Regions from separate parts of the Homo sapiens genome. Here region 1 is linked to region 2. A link means that fine-mapping ties the variant in region 2 to the expression of a gene that starts in the linked region. Tissue or cell type: monocytes after interferon gamma. Region 2 holds a variant in brackets; the other region holds the start of a gene. All regions are shown on one strand. Distances are from middle to middle.

What was found. PIP is the estimated chance that this variant, and not a neighbour inherited with it, causes the effect.
Region 1: DMAP1 starts here. The variant in region 2 is fine-mapped to the expression of DMAP1 in monocytes after interferon gamma (Fairfax 2014, PIP 0.93).

What each region holds. Positions count from the first base shown.
Region 1 is chr1:44,208,762-44,216,849 of GRCh38, reverse strand. DMAP1 (DNA methyltransferase 1 associated protein 1) reads right to left here and starts at 3,379. Exons shown (of 10, transcript NM_019100.5): 1 at 2,992-3,379; 2 at 2,409-2,500; 3 at 1,952-2,147. The coding sequence starts at 3,096. RefSeq lists enhancers at 1,534-2,033, 2,034-2,535, 3,301-3,540, 3,279-3,573 and a silencer at 3,971-4,070.
Region 2 is chr1:44,181,084-44,189,189 of GRCh38, reverse strand. It overlaps the pseudogene LOC100130714. Among named protein-coding and RNA genes, the nearest start is that of DMAP1, 28 kb to the left of the region's middle. The variant TA/A (reference allele first, on the strand shown) is at 5,072.

The sequences.
Region 1 (8,088 bases), 28 kb before region 2:
CAGTGTCTACCAAATCAATTAATGAACATACAAATAAATGACCTGGCCTCCTCCTGCAGCCACTGTCCCTCATGAACCCTAAACTGCAGCCAAATGACTAGCAGTTTCTAGAACATAGCAGACTTCCCCCTTGACCTCTGCTCTTGCCTGAAATGCCTTCCACTTCCACATTCCTTCTACCTAGGTAACTTTCTCAACCTTTCGAGCTCTCAGGCATCATCTCCTCTGGGAAGTCTCTCTGGTTTCCCAGGTTTGGTTACATATTTCTCCTATGCATTTTAATTCAATTTAACTAAAAAACAAACAAACCAACAACTCAGGGCCATGTGCGGTGGCTCACGCCTGTAATCCCAATACTTTGGGAGGCTGAGGTGGGCAGATCACTTGAGCCTAAGAGTTTGAGACCAGCCTGGGAAACATGGTGAAACCCAGTCTCTTAAAAAAACACAAAAATTAGCCAGGCATGTTGGTGCATGCCGGTGGTCCCAGCTACTCAGGAGGGTGAGGTGGGAGGATCGCTTGAGCCCTAGAGGTGGAGGATGCAATGAGCTGAGATCACACCACTGCACTCCAGCCTGGCAGACAGAAAGAGACCCTGTCTCAAAGAAGGAAAAAAAAAAAATCCTCAGGAACTGTGCAGCCAGTCCTCTCAAGTAGCTCATAGTCAAGTGAGGAAGACATTTTTTCATTCATTCAACAAATATTTACCATGGGGCTGCAATACCTATGCTGGAGACACAGTGCTGCATATGACAGGCAGGGATCCTAGCCTCTCAAAGCTCATACTGCAGCTGAAAAAACAATTTTGGTACCGTGTGGGAAGTTTGATACATAGGGTATAACAAGTGACACTCCAGCCCAGGGACAAAGATTGGTTAGAGAAGAGGTAAATGAGGCTTTTAGGATCTAAGTCTAGGCTATTCCAGGCCGCAGCAGCTGTGAGGCCACACTGTACAATGACTTAAGTAATGGACTAGGAAACCTAGCCCAATCTAGCTCTGCCTCTCACTGAATGGGTGAGTCTGGGAAGGCCGTGCTGTGCTGAGCTACACAGGTAACTCAGCTTGGACTAGGGGGCTGGCATAGTGATGAAGAATATAGTCAGAGATGTGATTTATTATGGAAAAAGAATCAACAGGACTCAATAAATAGATGTATCACTGGCATCCAGCTCAAATGCCACGTTCTCAGACCCTCCCTGACCAACCTAAGGTAGGACTCCCCTACACCTACAAGTTCACTCTTTATCTCATTTCATATCCATTCAAATCCTGGTTTCGTGTTACTGACGGCTCTTATTTGAAAGACTCCAATTTATTTCCTTACATGTTTGTTGTTTGTTTTCCCCTACCTTCTTTGTTCTGTTGTTGATTTAAATACTGTGAGGACTAAGGGAGAAGACTAAGTCAAGGACGATCCCCCAAGTTTCTGGTTTGGGCAACTGGGTGGAAGATAGTGCCATTCACTGAGATGGGGAACAGATTTGGGACTGACAGAGGGAAGATGATGAGCTCTGTTCAGGGTACCTACCTGATGTAAGGTACCTGTGGGGCATTGAGAAAGAGATATTAGTAAATGACTGGATGCGAAGGAAGCACTGCTCTGGATTGGTGACTTGTAGAGAGGGTAACTGAAGCCACAGGGTTCATACTAAGAAAGTAGAGAACAAGAAGACTAGAGCACCTAGGATACAGCTCTGAGGAACAGCAACATTTGAAAGACCAAGAAAAGCCATGAAAAACCAGAGCAGGTCCGGGAAAGAACAGGATCCCTTGGGCAGAAAAGACCCACAGAGTCCTACTCTGCATGCATTTGCCACGAGGATTGAGTGGGTAATCACAGTTGGGCATAAGCGTGCCCCCAGAACCAACCCTAGGAGACTGGAGAGCTCGCACAAATGGCTCAAAGTGGGAGGGCAATCTTGGCCTGTGTCCGAATGAAGGTAGCTTACCTTATTGAACCTGGCAAAGGGGTAGTCCTTGCCCTCCTCCGCTGCACGTCGCCAGTGGAAGAACATTGCTCCGTCCTTGCGGGCCGGGTTGGTGAATGGCATCCACTTCCAAGGCCGCACCTTCTTGGAGCCCAACTTGGCCTTCACTGTACGGTATCCCTGGCCAGTGTCACTGGGTAGCAGTGGGGGTGCATCCCTGGCAGGGAGGTTTAGGGAGATGCGAGGTTAGAATCAGAAGGTGTGTTAAAGAGCTTTTTGTCCCAGGGAGCTGATCTACCCTACCCTATAGCAAGAAAGTCATGTCCTGGAGCAAAAGACTTCAGGTCCTCCTGCATCCTGCTAAGCAAGCAGGAGCCCTTGCTGGGGAGGAGAAAATTGTTAGAGAAAACTAGGAGTTAGGGGCATGGCAGGTGAATCAGGGGCCAAAACCTGGGGGACTTGGGACTCCAATACTTGCTTCTTGTCAGAGTAGAGCAAGGCATAGACTTCCCGGTGCATGCCCTCGGGCCTCTTGAAAGTCAGTGTCTCAGAGGACTTCTTGGATTTTTTCTGAGGAAGGAAACCACAGAAAGGAACCACAACCTAGACCCTTTCCTGAAAATTCTTTAGTCCAGCTCAATCCCTGAACAAAGCAGCACCTACAGGGTCAATGACAGGCAAACTGACACACTGTAAAGGCACAGAAACCCACTCCCAGGAACACCATCCTACGCCCAAATCAGAGCAGTCCCCTCCCCATCCCACCAACTCTCAGACTGTTACAATGTCTTGATCTCTCCCCAACAATATCTTGCAAAAATCACACTTGCCTGGTCCTCTCAGCTCTTAGAGGTGTCATACCCTCTTGGTCCCACCATCTCCCACGATGTCCCATCTCCTCCCTCCCATCAAGGATGACACATATTCCCTGTCCTGTTATGTCACCCCTTTTATCGCCCAACTCACTGTAAGTGTAGCACCCATCCCTTGCCCGTTGTCACTCCTCCCCATCTTCACTCCCCTACCCTCCCCTAGTCAACGCTTTCAGGTGCCCCTGCTACCTTGTCCGGGTTGATAATGTCCTTCTTGCTGATGGTCCCAGAGGCTGCATCCCCTTCTGGACCCCCGAGTTCTAGAATGTCCCGTACATCCGCGCCCGTAGCCATCGCGCCTGAGAGATGGGGGAGCCACCGGAGGTCAAGGGTCAGTGCCTGAAGAAGGACCAGGCTCAGGTCAGGGGGCGGGGCCAATCCAGACCTAAGCGGAGGCGAGTTGAAGGGGCGGGCCAAGAGGAGAAGGGTGGTCCAGGTCAGGTCGGGGATCTGCCTGTGCCCCACCGCTTGGATGTTCCTAACGGCCCCTTCAGCCACCTGGGCCCTCGCACTTCCGCACCTGGGTCCGGCAGCTGCAGCCCCCACTACCACTCCCCCGTCCCCGCAAAGCCGCGGCAGAAACTTCCGGCGGTGCTCATTCGGAACGCGGCCGACAGAAACACTTCCGGTCGGTGTTGTAGGAAACGAAGCCGACTGGCAACCGAGGGTGAAAGCTACTGGCCGTGCTGAGCTTGCCACCCTTTGGTTCTCCCGCGAGCCTGTTTTCATTGGTGCACTGCCTGCTTTCTGGCATTTTCCCTCTACGATGCTCCGTTGCGTCTCAGGCAGTGAAGAGATACCAGAACTTTGTGACTTTGGGAAGTCACTTAATTTCTCTGGACCTTTTTCTTTATTTGCCGAATGGAAATTGTAATGGCACCTGTGTAAATGAAATACCAAGAATCCTTGTAAAACATTAGCACGGTGCGTGGGACATTTACTATTTTTTTATTAAATGAGTTAATGATTTGAATTGCCCCCTCTTCATTAAGTGCTAATATGTACTAGGCACTGTGCTAAGCTTGGAGGTGAAGAGATAAACTTCAAATTGTGATAAGCTTGAAGATGAAGAAATAAAGGCAGAGCTTCCTAGGGCGGCTGCCAAAATGGAGTAAGGTGTGGGCCCTCATTTGCACCTCCTCTGATGGAGATAGCTGTGGGTTGTGGCCTCGTGGGGATTTCCTGGAGGCCAGCTTCGTGGCACTTCACTAGTACAGGAGCTAGCTGCACTCTTTGGGCTACGAAGAAGCCCAAAACACAGCCCCAAGCAGGAACCAGCTTAGAAGTATCCCTCAAGGGAATAAACCTGGGGATCTTCCTGGAAAGAGAGAGACAGGAGGTCCTGAGGAAGGGCACAAGGGACAAGGAAAGCAGCTCCCAGCTTCAGCAGTCTGCAAACCAGCCTGTCAATTTGAAGGACACATAGCCTGTGGGATAGGGTGGGGCTTGTTAAGGCATTAAGAAGGCCAGACCCCAAGTCGAGACCTGCCAAAGATACCAGCAGGGACTAGAGGAGCAGACAGTTTGCGCAAGTTAGCTATAAGTGGTGTAGCCTGTTCTGGCCTGGAGAAGACAAGGGGATACAACAGCTGTAGCCACAAGCCTGACTAGTCCCCAAAACTTTGGAGAACTAGGCCTGGAGGTACAAACCTGTTCCTGGGTCTGATTCCTGGATGGATCCACTGAGCTCCAAACAGTTGCCGGAGGAAGTCACAGTCTTACAGCAGAAATTGTCCACAGGGTAAGGAAATGGTCCTTGGAGCCAGAAAGGGAGAGAGCAATTGGCTGCCTGAAACACTTGACCCTAGTTGTAGTTAATTAATTGTGTAATTACTTGTTTAATATATATCTCTAATAGACTCATTTCTGTGAAGACAGGGATCACAGTACATAAAGGAATGTATGTGCCAGGCACTATTCTAGACTCTGGGCATGCAGTGGGTGAACGAGATACAAATAGCTACTGGTGGAGCTTATATTTAGTGGAGAAGGAGAAACACTAAGGAAATAGACAATAAAATTGATAATGTAAGTTTTGATGGTAACAAGAGCTAGGAAGGAAATGAAATAGAGCGATGGGATGGAGAACTGCTTTCCATAATCTGGTCAGGGAAAGTTAGTGGTCTCTCTTTTTTTTATAAATGTGTATATACATAGAAAAAATTCTGGAAAGGACTAAACTGAAATGATTCCATCACTTGTTTTTATCTGGCAATTTATATTTTCTATACTTTCTATAATGAATGTGTACCTCTTCTATAATAAAAGGAAGGAATGAAGGGAAGAAGGAAAGGAAGAAGGAAAGACAGGCAGACTGTGCGCTGTGGAAGGTGGACCAGGCCAGAGTTTAGGAGACTAGAGGGCAGTTGTGACTATCTAGGTTAGAGGTGTTGGGAAACTGAACTAAGGTTGTAGCAGTGGCAATGGATTCCAGATATTTAGAGAAAGATGACCATGTTATCTGCAAATAATGACAAGTTTATCCCCTCCTTTCAATTTATACCCCTTATTTCTTTTTCTTTTAGCATTTTCCAGTACCTCCAGTAATTGGTTAAACAGCAGGTGTGGTCGTGGGCATCCTTGTCTTTTTCCAGATCTTAAGGGGGGCGCATTTAAATTTTTTCTATTAAACATAACATTTGCTCCAGGTTGTTTGTATATACTCTTTCCCAAATTAAGGAACATTCTTCTTAGTTTTCTAAGAGTTATTTATTCCTTAAGGTGATCATCTTTAGCAAAAAAAAAAAAATGCTTTTCATCAATTGATATCAATTGATATATTTATAAGAATTATCTCCTTTAGTCTACTACTGAAGTGTATTAACAGATTTTGTGATGTTACATTTATGGAATGAAATCCATCTGATCATAATACATATGTAAAGAAGGTATACTTTTGGGCTTAGCTAGCTAATAGTTTATTTAGGATTTTTAAAAAATCAATTTATAACTGAAATGGGCCTATAATTTTCTTTTCTTTTAACTATCCTGATGTGATTTTGGAATCAGAATTATGCTTGTCTTCTAAAATGAGTCAGGAACCTTCATTCTTTTTCTACCCTTTGAACAATGCGCAACACACACACACATACATTTTAGTTTAGTAGAAATGACCTAAAAACCCTCAGGCCTTTTTTTGTTTGGGGGCAAAGGGAGTCTTTAAGGATTATTTTAAACACTTATTAGTCTATCTCTTCTTGATTTCAATATTAGTAGTTTATATTTTCCTCACAAGAATAGCTAAAAGTGAAAAGACTGACAATACCAAGTGTTGGTGAGGATGTGAAGCAACAGAACTCTCATACATTACTGGTGGAAATAAAATTATTACAACCACATAGAAACATTGACACTATCTACTAAAGTCAAACATCCATATCCCTGATGTCACAGCAGTTCTACTCCTAGGTATATTCCTAAGAGAAATAAGTGCTTATGTTCACAGAAAGACATATACAGAAATGATCATAACACTGTTATTCATCATAGTCCCAAACTGGAAACAATTCAAAAGTCTCTCAAAAGTACAAATAAATTATAGTATAGTCATACAATGGAATACCACAAGCAATGAGAAAGAAAAAAATACTGCTACATGCAAGGATATGAATGCATCTCACTGACAAAATGTTGTATGAAAGAAGAAAGGCACAAATGAATACATAATGTATAATTCCATTCATATGAAGTTCAAAACTAGACAAAACTGATCTATCATGATAGAGATCAAAACAGTGGGAGGGGCACCAAGGGGGAGAAGGCATGAGCCTCTTGGAGTGTTGGGAATGTTCTACATCTTGATCTGGGTGATGGTATATGGTTACATACATTCCTATGTAAACATCATTGAGCTGGCACCTTTAAGAATGTGCCTTTTATTGTATGAAAGTTATACCTCAATAAAAAGGAAGCAAGTATTAAGCATATAGGAAATAATTGATAAATTTGACTATATAAAGGTAAGTTACAACCCTAGGGTTAACAGAAGTTAAATCTTAAAATTTAGTGTTTTGTTGACCAAACAACAAGGAGGTCTCTGTGAATAAATTAATACCTTCCATTACACCTATGTGAATAAAACTTGACAAATAAAACAAAAATCAGGCTAGGTGTGGTGGCTCATGCCTGTAATCCCAATACTTTGGGAGGCCAAGGTGGGTGAATCGCTTGAGCCCAGGAGTTCAAGACCAGTCTAGGCAACATGGCGAAATCTCATTTCTACAAAAAATACAAAAATTAGCTGAGTGTGGTGGCGCACACCTGTTGTCCCAGCTACCTGGGATGCTGAGGTGGGAGGATCACCTCAGCCCAGAAGGTTGAGGCTGCAGTGAGCCGTTATGGTGCCATTGAACTCCAGCCTGGGTGACAGAGCAAGACACCGTCTCAAAACAATGACAGCAACAAAACATCTGATCAAATCAGAAATCACTAAACAAACTTAGATGGGCAAATCTGTGCTTATGAATGGTAATAGACCCCAAAGAGGGACTGGAGCAAGACTGACATCTTTCTCTGCCTGTATTTTGAGTAGACTTGCAAATCACATCCCTCAATCAGGGAAGAAGTGAAAAAAAAAAAAACAAGCACTTTGTTCCTGGAGATAAACAAAACAATACAAAAACAGGGCCACACTGAATAGTTCTAAACCCAAAATAAATGAAAGCTTAATTCTTTCCAGTACCTTACTACTGATGCTGTAGCAAAGACAACTTTATTCCCGATTTTTGCAATGCTGATCTCCAACAGAACTCTCATAATTTTGAGAGAGAATTGCTGTTTTTCCGCCATGAACAAATTGGTAAGTTTGCTTATCTTTTTTATGTTGTATTTATTATTTGGTTAACCAGTCCTTCTAAAGTCTGGACTTTCTTACAGACTTTTTTTTGCAAGTCAATTATTTTGCTTTCCAAACTAAACTAAGTAAATAAAAATTAAAGTAAGAGATAAAGTGCTGCACCTTGCTCCACCCACCTTGAAGACAGAATTACAAAAGTTGGTGGTCCTCTTTGGATTTGGAGGCATATGAACAATATTTGATCATGCTCTGACTCATTTACAAGGTAACCTATCAGTTTTGAGAGGGGCCTGGCTCAAGAAGGGGTTCTGTGTGACATCCAGGTCACCGTGCAAGATATGCTGCCATTTGGGACTGATTATCCAACAGACCCAATGATATTGGAAGTATCTGGTGACAAAGATCTCATGTATAGTCTCTGGCAATCCTAATAGCAGAATCACAGCACAGCCACCCAGAGTTCTGAAGGCTATAATCTCACCTATAAACAA
Region 2 (8,106 bases):
AATAAATAAATGGCATAAAACTAAAACTAAATGACACAATGAACAACAACAACAACAAGCCATTCTATTGATTAAAAGAGACTTAAGAGCAGTAACCATCAGCCCTGTCAAGATGGTGGCTCCTTGGAGCTCAGTGGCTGGGAGGTGGCTAGGGGCTCCTATTGGTACACAGTGAGTATGTGGTGGTGATGGCTTATGCCAAATTATCTGTTGCATGTTTGAAAGTTAATGTTGGGCCAGGCATTGTGGCTCCCAGCACTTTGGGAAGCCCAGACGGCCGATCGCTTGAGCTCAAGAGTTTGAAACTAGCTTGGGCAACATGGCAAAACCCCATCTCTACTAAAAATACAAAAAAATTGCCAGGTGTGGTGGTGCGTGCCGGTGGTCCCAGCTATTCTGGAGGCTGAAGTGGGAGGAACCTTTCAGCCCAGGAGGCAGAGGTTGCAGTGAGCAGAGATTGTGACACTGCACTTCAGCCAGTGTGACACAGAGAGACCCTGCCTCAAAAAAAAAAAAGAGAAGAAAAGAAAAGAAAGTTAATGTCATAGATAGCCACTGGAGAGGTTCAAGGGAAGATATATCAATTTTGACAACTGAAGACAACATTGTTTCTTAGCTGGTAAAAATATTAAACTTTTAAGGAAAACAGAAATATAATGTTTATTATGAATTTCCAGCCAAAGGGCAGACACACTGGCTTTCAATGCTCTCCTTGAATAGAAGCTGCCTCCTCTAGCGCTTCACACGTTCTGGGTTGAAAGCCACAATTACTCTACTGTAACAAAGCCTTGGTGTTGGTTTGCTTCATAGATTCCTTTTCCCTTGGGTTTGATCCTGCCTGGAAAAATGTCTGCAACAGCACTGATCGGATTATCCTGACCAGAGGAGAGCCTCTCCTTTACCGCCTGTGAGAAGTGGAATCATGGATATAGAGATGCTAAGAAGTGCCTAAATCTTCTGGCAGATAGATTGTGAACATCTCAGCTTTTCCTTGGAGATACGCGTTCTACTTTGGTTACCTATGTGTTTGGTTTCCTTGCACCTCTGCGTGAAGTGCACTTTCCTAAAGTTCAGTTACAAGAACATTTGGAACATCTCTCCAACCTGCGTTCCTTTTGTGATGCTCTCCTAAATAGTTATTTTAGGCTTAGCGTTGGAGATGGATGACAATCTTCACCAAAACCCTCAACTTCCTCCTTGGAAACTGCCAACATTCAAATTGACATCAGTGGAGCAAGAAAGTAATTCCTTATGTTAAATTAAATAATAAGTACTCATTAAATATATAGCTTATTTCCAAATAAAATATGTTTTTAATTTAAAAATTATAAAGACTTTTAAAATATGCTCTTTATTTTAAAAAATGTTTTTAATCTAACTTAATGGTTATTTCAAAATAGGAAACAAAATTAAAAAAACAATAAATGGAAAATATATATTAAAAGTTATAAATATGAAAAAATACATATTTTTGAAAATATATTTTTAATTTAAAAAGGTTAAAAATATTTTATATTAAAAAAACTCAGCCTGACATGGTGGCTCATGCTTGTAATCCCAGCACTTTGGGAGGCTGACAGGAGGCTCACTTGAGGCCAAAAGATCAAGACCAACCCAGGCAACATAGCAAGACCCTGCCTTCCTAAAAAATAAAAAATAAGTTACAGGGGCACACCTGTAGTCCTAGACACACAGGAGGCTTTATCACATTGGAGATCTTTATAACTTTTTGATATGGGCATTTAGAACTATAAGCTTTCCTTTTAACATTGCTTTAGCTGTGTCCCAGAAATTCTGCTTTGTTGTATCTTTGTTCTCATTAGTTTCAAAGAATTTCTTGATTTCTGCCATAATTTCATTGTTTACCCAAAAATCATTCAGGAGCAGGTTGTTTAATTTCCCTGCAATTGTATGGTTTTGGGCAAAAAAACTCTCATCAAATTTTAACCATGGCTATTCTAAGGCTTTGTTTAATCCACAGATACTATTTTCAATTCTTCCCTAAAAACATTTGCCACCAGCTATAATATAAAATTACTTTTCACTAAAAAGGCCTCTAGCAAATACTCTTAGACACAAATTTCTGATAACTTTAAAATCAATCGACTAAATGAAAATTATTAAAACTCTAATAAAAACTAATAGGTTCATCAAAACTACTAAACAAGATCAAACAAAACAGAAAGTTAACTAATTAAAAAAATAAAAACAACGTTTTATAACTGTTATTCAAGATACTGTTAGTTCTGGCTAAGCATAATCCCAGCACTTTGGGAGGCCAAGGTGAGAGAACTGCTTGAGCCTGGGAGTTGGAGACCTGCCTGGGCAACATAATGAGACCTTGTCTCTATTACTTTTTAAACAATTATAAAATAAAATACTGTTATTTCTTTAAGTAATGCTTTAAGTACTGTTTCCTTTTCCATTAAAAAATTTTCAACTGGACATGGTGGCTCACACCTGTAATCCCAACATTTTGGGAGGTCAAGGCAGGAGGGTCACTTGAAGCCAGGTGTTCAAGACCAGCCTAGGCAACAAAGTGAGACCCCCATCTCTACAAAAAATTTTTTTGTAGAGACAAAAAAAATTTTTTGTCAGGTGTGGTGGCGTATGCCTGTAGTCCCCGCTTGGGAGGCTGAGGCAGGAGGATTGCTTGAGTTTAGGAGTTCAGAGGCTGCAGTGGAGCTATGACTGCATCACTGCACTACAGCCTGGGCAGTAAAGTGAGACCCCATTTCTATAAAAGAAAAAATAAAAATAAGGAAAATTTTCTCTCATATACTATCTATAGTTTACAATAATAGCCTGAGCAGCATAGCGAGACCTCGTCTCTACTAAAAAAAAAAAAAAAACGAGCCGGGCATGGTGGTACATGCCCCGTGGTCTCAGCTACTCACGAGGCTGAGGTGGACAGATAGCTTGAGCCTGGGAGATTGAGGCTGCAGTGAGCTTGATCGTGCCACTGTACTCCAGCCTTGGTGACAGAGTGAGACCCTGTCTCAAAAATAATAATATTAATAATTTAATAATTATACTTTTATAAACAATGATAAAAAACATTTGCTTCTTCTCCCTACTTAATTTCTTAAAAAATTCAAAAACTATTTGTATCATTTTTATAACAACATTATTTATACAAATTCAGTTAAAATCTACTCTCTTTATAAACAAACAATTAAAAATATTAGTTATATTACTAAGATTTTGACTGAATTGTCATATTTTTAAATGCACATAAAATGCTTAACTTCAAGAGTTCTCAACCTTACAATAAATAAATAAAAATTGTTACTTTCTTACAGGCTCAAAAACCATAAGACTATAAAAAAAAATCTGAAATCTGCTTTGATTTGGTTTCCCAGCCTGAAAAAAGTTCTTAAATCTGAGATTTCTATATAATCAACTTTTTAAAAAAATTATGTTTCTAAAAAGCCTATAAAACACCTATTATTAGATTATAACCCCATCCATTATTTTCAAATTCCTTTTATCTACCTGTACACTATACTAAATCCTAAATTTTTCCAATTTCGTCCAAAATTTGGCTACAACTCCCCAATGAAAAACAAAAAATACTCTGTTTCTAAACTAAAACGAGATAACTTTTAAAAACCAAGTCTCATGCCTGATATATGGGCCACACAAAAGATTCACCAAACCATCCAATGTCATGACCAAAGACATTAAAACTGCAACCCCCAGAAAAAGTTAATGGTTTTTACTTGTGGAAGGAAGTCTTGGTTAAAAAAAAAAAAAAAAAGTTAATGTTTTCATGTTATAGACAACTTTTTCCAAGATATCAGAGCAAGAGTCTATATCATAATAAAACTTTTATCCCTCTTAATGCCTACCTTTTTCATTGAACAAAAAGATATAATTAAAATTTCACAATCAATAACTTCTGCTAGTAACATAAAAGCTAACCTAGGCCAGGTGTGGTGGCTCATGCCAGTAATCCTAGTGCTTCGGGAGGCCAAAGTAAGAGGATCACTTGAGGCCAGGAGTTTGAGACCAGCCTGTTCAACATAATGAAACCTTGTCTCTACAAAAGAGAAAAAAAACGAGTCAGGCTTCGTGGTGCAGGCCTGTAGTTCCAGCTACTCAGGAGGCTGAGGCAGGAAGATCCCTGGAGTCCAGGAGTTCAAGGCTACAGTGAGCTATGATGGCACCACTAGACCCCAGCCTAGATGACAGAGCAAGACCCTGTCTCTTGACCAAAAATAAAAGAAGAAGAAGAACTTAAAAAAAATCCTTTAATATCCATTAGTTAAAATTTTAAAAGGCTAGAGTGGTAGGTGCAGTGGCTGACACCTGTAATCCCAGCACTTTGGGAGGATGAGGTGGGAGGGTTGCTTGAACCCAATGGTTCGAGACCAGCCAGGGCAACATAGGAAGACTCCATTTCTACAAACAAGCAAACAAACAAACAAAAAAGGCAGCTGTGGTGGCACGGGCCTGTCGTCCCAGCTACTCGGAAGGCTGAGGTGGGAGGATGGCTTGAGCCTGGGAGATCAAGGCTGCAGTTAGCATGACCCAGCCTGAGTGACAGAGAAAGATCCTGCCTCAAAATAAAATAAAATTTAATTTAAATTTAAAATAAATAAATTTTAAAAGTCTATACTATTACTAATATTACATGCTATACCTAAATAAATTCCTCTAAAAAAGCTAAGATCCACTTATAGAAAATTAACAAAACGGGTCATATAATTACAACAAGTGTAACTAAATTCCCTATGGTCATTTAATTTATTCAATTGGTAGTCTTTAAGTCTCAGTTCATGGCCCAAAACCATTATACAAACTAAAACTGTCATATTGCTAATAATTTACTCTAATTTTCCCTTTTAAAACTTTATATCTATTGCTTGTTACATTTTCACAAAAATACAGCTCTTAACAAAATAATACTGCCCCAAAACTTTAAAATAAGAACAAAAGACTGAAAAACAGCCAGTAATCCCAGCACTTTGGGAGGCCGAGGCGGGCGGATCACGAGGTCAGGAGATTGAGACCATCCTGGCTAACACGGTGAAACCCTGTCTCTACTAAAAATACAAAAAAAAAAAAA[TA/A]ATAATTAGACGGGCGTGGTGGCGGTTGCCTGTAGTCTCAACTACTAGGGAGGCTGAGGCAGGAGAATGGCATGAACCTGGGAGGCGGACCTTGCAGTGAGCCAAGATCGCGCCACTGCACTCCAGCCTGGGCAACAGAGCGAGACTCCATCTCAAAAAAAAAAAAAAGAGAGACTGAAAAACAAATAAAAATAAACTTAATAATACACACTAGATAAACAGCCTAAGGGCCATTTTCTTCAAACTCCATTGTTACTCAAACATGACTAAAATCATTCTGACACTGACTCTCAGTTGCCAATTATTCCCCGAAACAAGAGATGAGACCAACAACCAAGACAGGTTAATCCTGACACCAAAGGACATCAAAGCCTAACTACAAAGTAATTGATCAGTAATACTTTCAAAAACAGATTTTGGCCGGGCACAGTGGCTCATGTCTGTAATCCCAGTACTTTGGGAGACCAAGGCAGGTGGATCACTTGAGCCCAGGAGTTCGAGACCAGTATGGGCAACATGGCAAGACTCTTGTCTTTTTGTCATTTTTTTTAAATTAAATTAATTCTTTAAAAAAATTTTAATAGAAAACAATATATAAAAGTTGGTAAAATCATAATAAAATCAGGAATATTTTTAAAATGATAACAAACTGGCTGGGTGCAGTGGCTCCAGCCTTAATTCCAGCACTTTGGGAGGCTGAGGTGGGCAGGTTGCTTGAGCCGAGGAGTTCAGGACCAGCTTGGGCAACATGGCAAGACCCTGTCTCTACAAAAAATTTTAAAAGTAGCCAGGTATGGTGGTGTGCACCTGTAGTTCCAGCCAGTTGGGAGGCTGAGGTGGGAGGATCGCTTGAGCCCAGAAAGTTGAGGCTGCAGTGAACTCGGTTCATACCACCGCACTCCAACCTGGGTGACAGAGCAAGACCCTGTCAAAAAAAAAAAAAAGAAAACAACTCATAAGACTTAAGCGATAAAGTGAGAGTTCTCATTCTTGCATGCCTAATAACAAAAACTATCACAAAACACTACAAAAACTACAACCTTACACAAAGACTATCACAATTTTGTACAAAAAAAAAAAATACTTCTACATGGACACTTGCCCAACAACTACAAATGGTGTCACTCTTGTTATTGATCTTTATAGCCAAAGATAATTATTTCAAAACAATTGTATAAATCCTCATTTTTTTCTTTAAAAATTTGTCTTCCTTTACCTCCATAAATATACACATGGTTTCACACAATACAGTGTCTTATAGTTATACTATAACATATTACTATTACAATACTCTAGTCCCATGTAAATATCTTTTTCTTTTAAAAAGCCTCTCTGGGCCAGGCGCGGTGGCTCACACCTGTAATCCCAGCACTTTGGGAGGCCGAGGCGGGCGGATCACGAGGTTAGGAGATCGAGACCATCGTGGCCAACACGGTGAAAGCCTGTCTCTACTAAAAAATAGAAAAAATTAGCCGGGCGTGGTGGCGGCCGCCTGTAGTCCCAGCTACTAGGGAGGCTGAGGCAGGAGAATGGCATGAACCCGGGAGGCGGAGCTTGCAGTGAGCCAAGATCGTGCCACTGTATTCCAGCCTGGGCGACAGAGCAAGACTCCGTCTCAAAAAACAAACAAACAAACAAACAAAAAGCCTCTCTGCTTGTTATTTAAACTACCACAAGAGTTATCACCATCAGCATGTTTGTGCCCAAACCTTTGCCTCAAGTCATATGATTATTGCAGTAATTTCTTACACTAAGTATGCGAGGTCAAAAATGTTTTTAAAAAGTATAAAGAAGACTAAAATAAAAGGAACTTTCTATTCTATGTATGTATTTTTTAACTAGAAAGTTTGCATTCTAATTTAGCAATACACATTAATGTCAAAGTGAACTTTAAATGAACTTGGAAAAAAGAAAATACATCGTGCTGTATATATTTTTTAAAAGAAGAAAGCAGCCGGGTGCAGTGGCTCACGCCTGTAATCCCAGCATTCTGGGAGGCCGAGGCGGGTGGATCATGAGGTCAGGAGATCGAGACCGTCCTGGCTAACATGGTGAAACCCCGTCTCTACTAAAAAATACAAAAAATTAGCCAGGCGTGGTGGTAGGCGCATGTAGTCCCAGCTACTTGGGATGCTGAGCCAGGAGAATGGTGTGAACCTGGGAGGCGGAGGTTGCAGTGAGCTGAGATCATGGCACTGCACTCCAGCCTGGGCACAAAGCGAGACTCCATCTCAAAAAAAAAAAAAAAAAAAAGAAGAAAGCCTGCTTTAATCTTGGCATTTGCCTTTGGTTTACATGTTGCTGACCAAAAGACACAATTCTGTTCTGAATGTGTGTTCAATTTATTCAAGTTAATTTACTCAATTTGTCAGTTTTTTTTAGGCCAATCTGAATGTTTAATCTTCATCTCTTTGGCTAAGGCCTTTTCTTCTGTTTAGAAATCTGATTTCTGGGATGGGTGCAGTGGCTCATGCCTGTAATCCCAGCACTTTGGGAGGCCGAGGTGGGCAGATCACTTGAGGTCAGTAGTTCGAGACCAGTATGGCCAACATGGTGAAACCCAGTCTCTACTAAAAATACAAAAATTAGCTGGACGCAGTGGCACATGCCTGTATTCCCAGCTACTTGGGAGGCTGAGACAGAAGAATAGCTTGAACCTGGGAGGCGGAGGTTGCAGTGAGCTGAGATGATGTCACTGCACTCCAGCCTGGGCGACAGAGCAAGACTCTGTCTAAAAAAAAAAAGAAAGAAAAAGTAAAGAAATCTGATTTCTGTTTTAGAAACTAGGAAAAATATTAATTATTTCAATAGAAAAGCATGTATTTAACTTGAGAGAGAGAGACAGAGAAAGAGAAAGAGAGAGAGAGAGAGAGACTTATCAACCAAATGAAATATGTAGTCTTGTTTCAGTCCTGATTTTTATAAACCACCTTTAAAAGACATTTAGGGACAATTAGGAAAATTGAACACAGACTGGTCGTTATACCAGGGATGTGAAAGGAAAATAAACCTTGGATCCCAAAATCACTGTCAT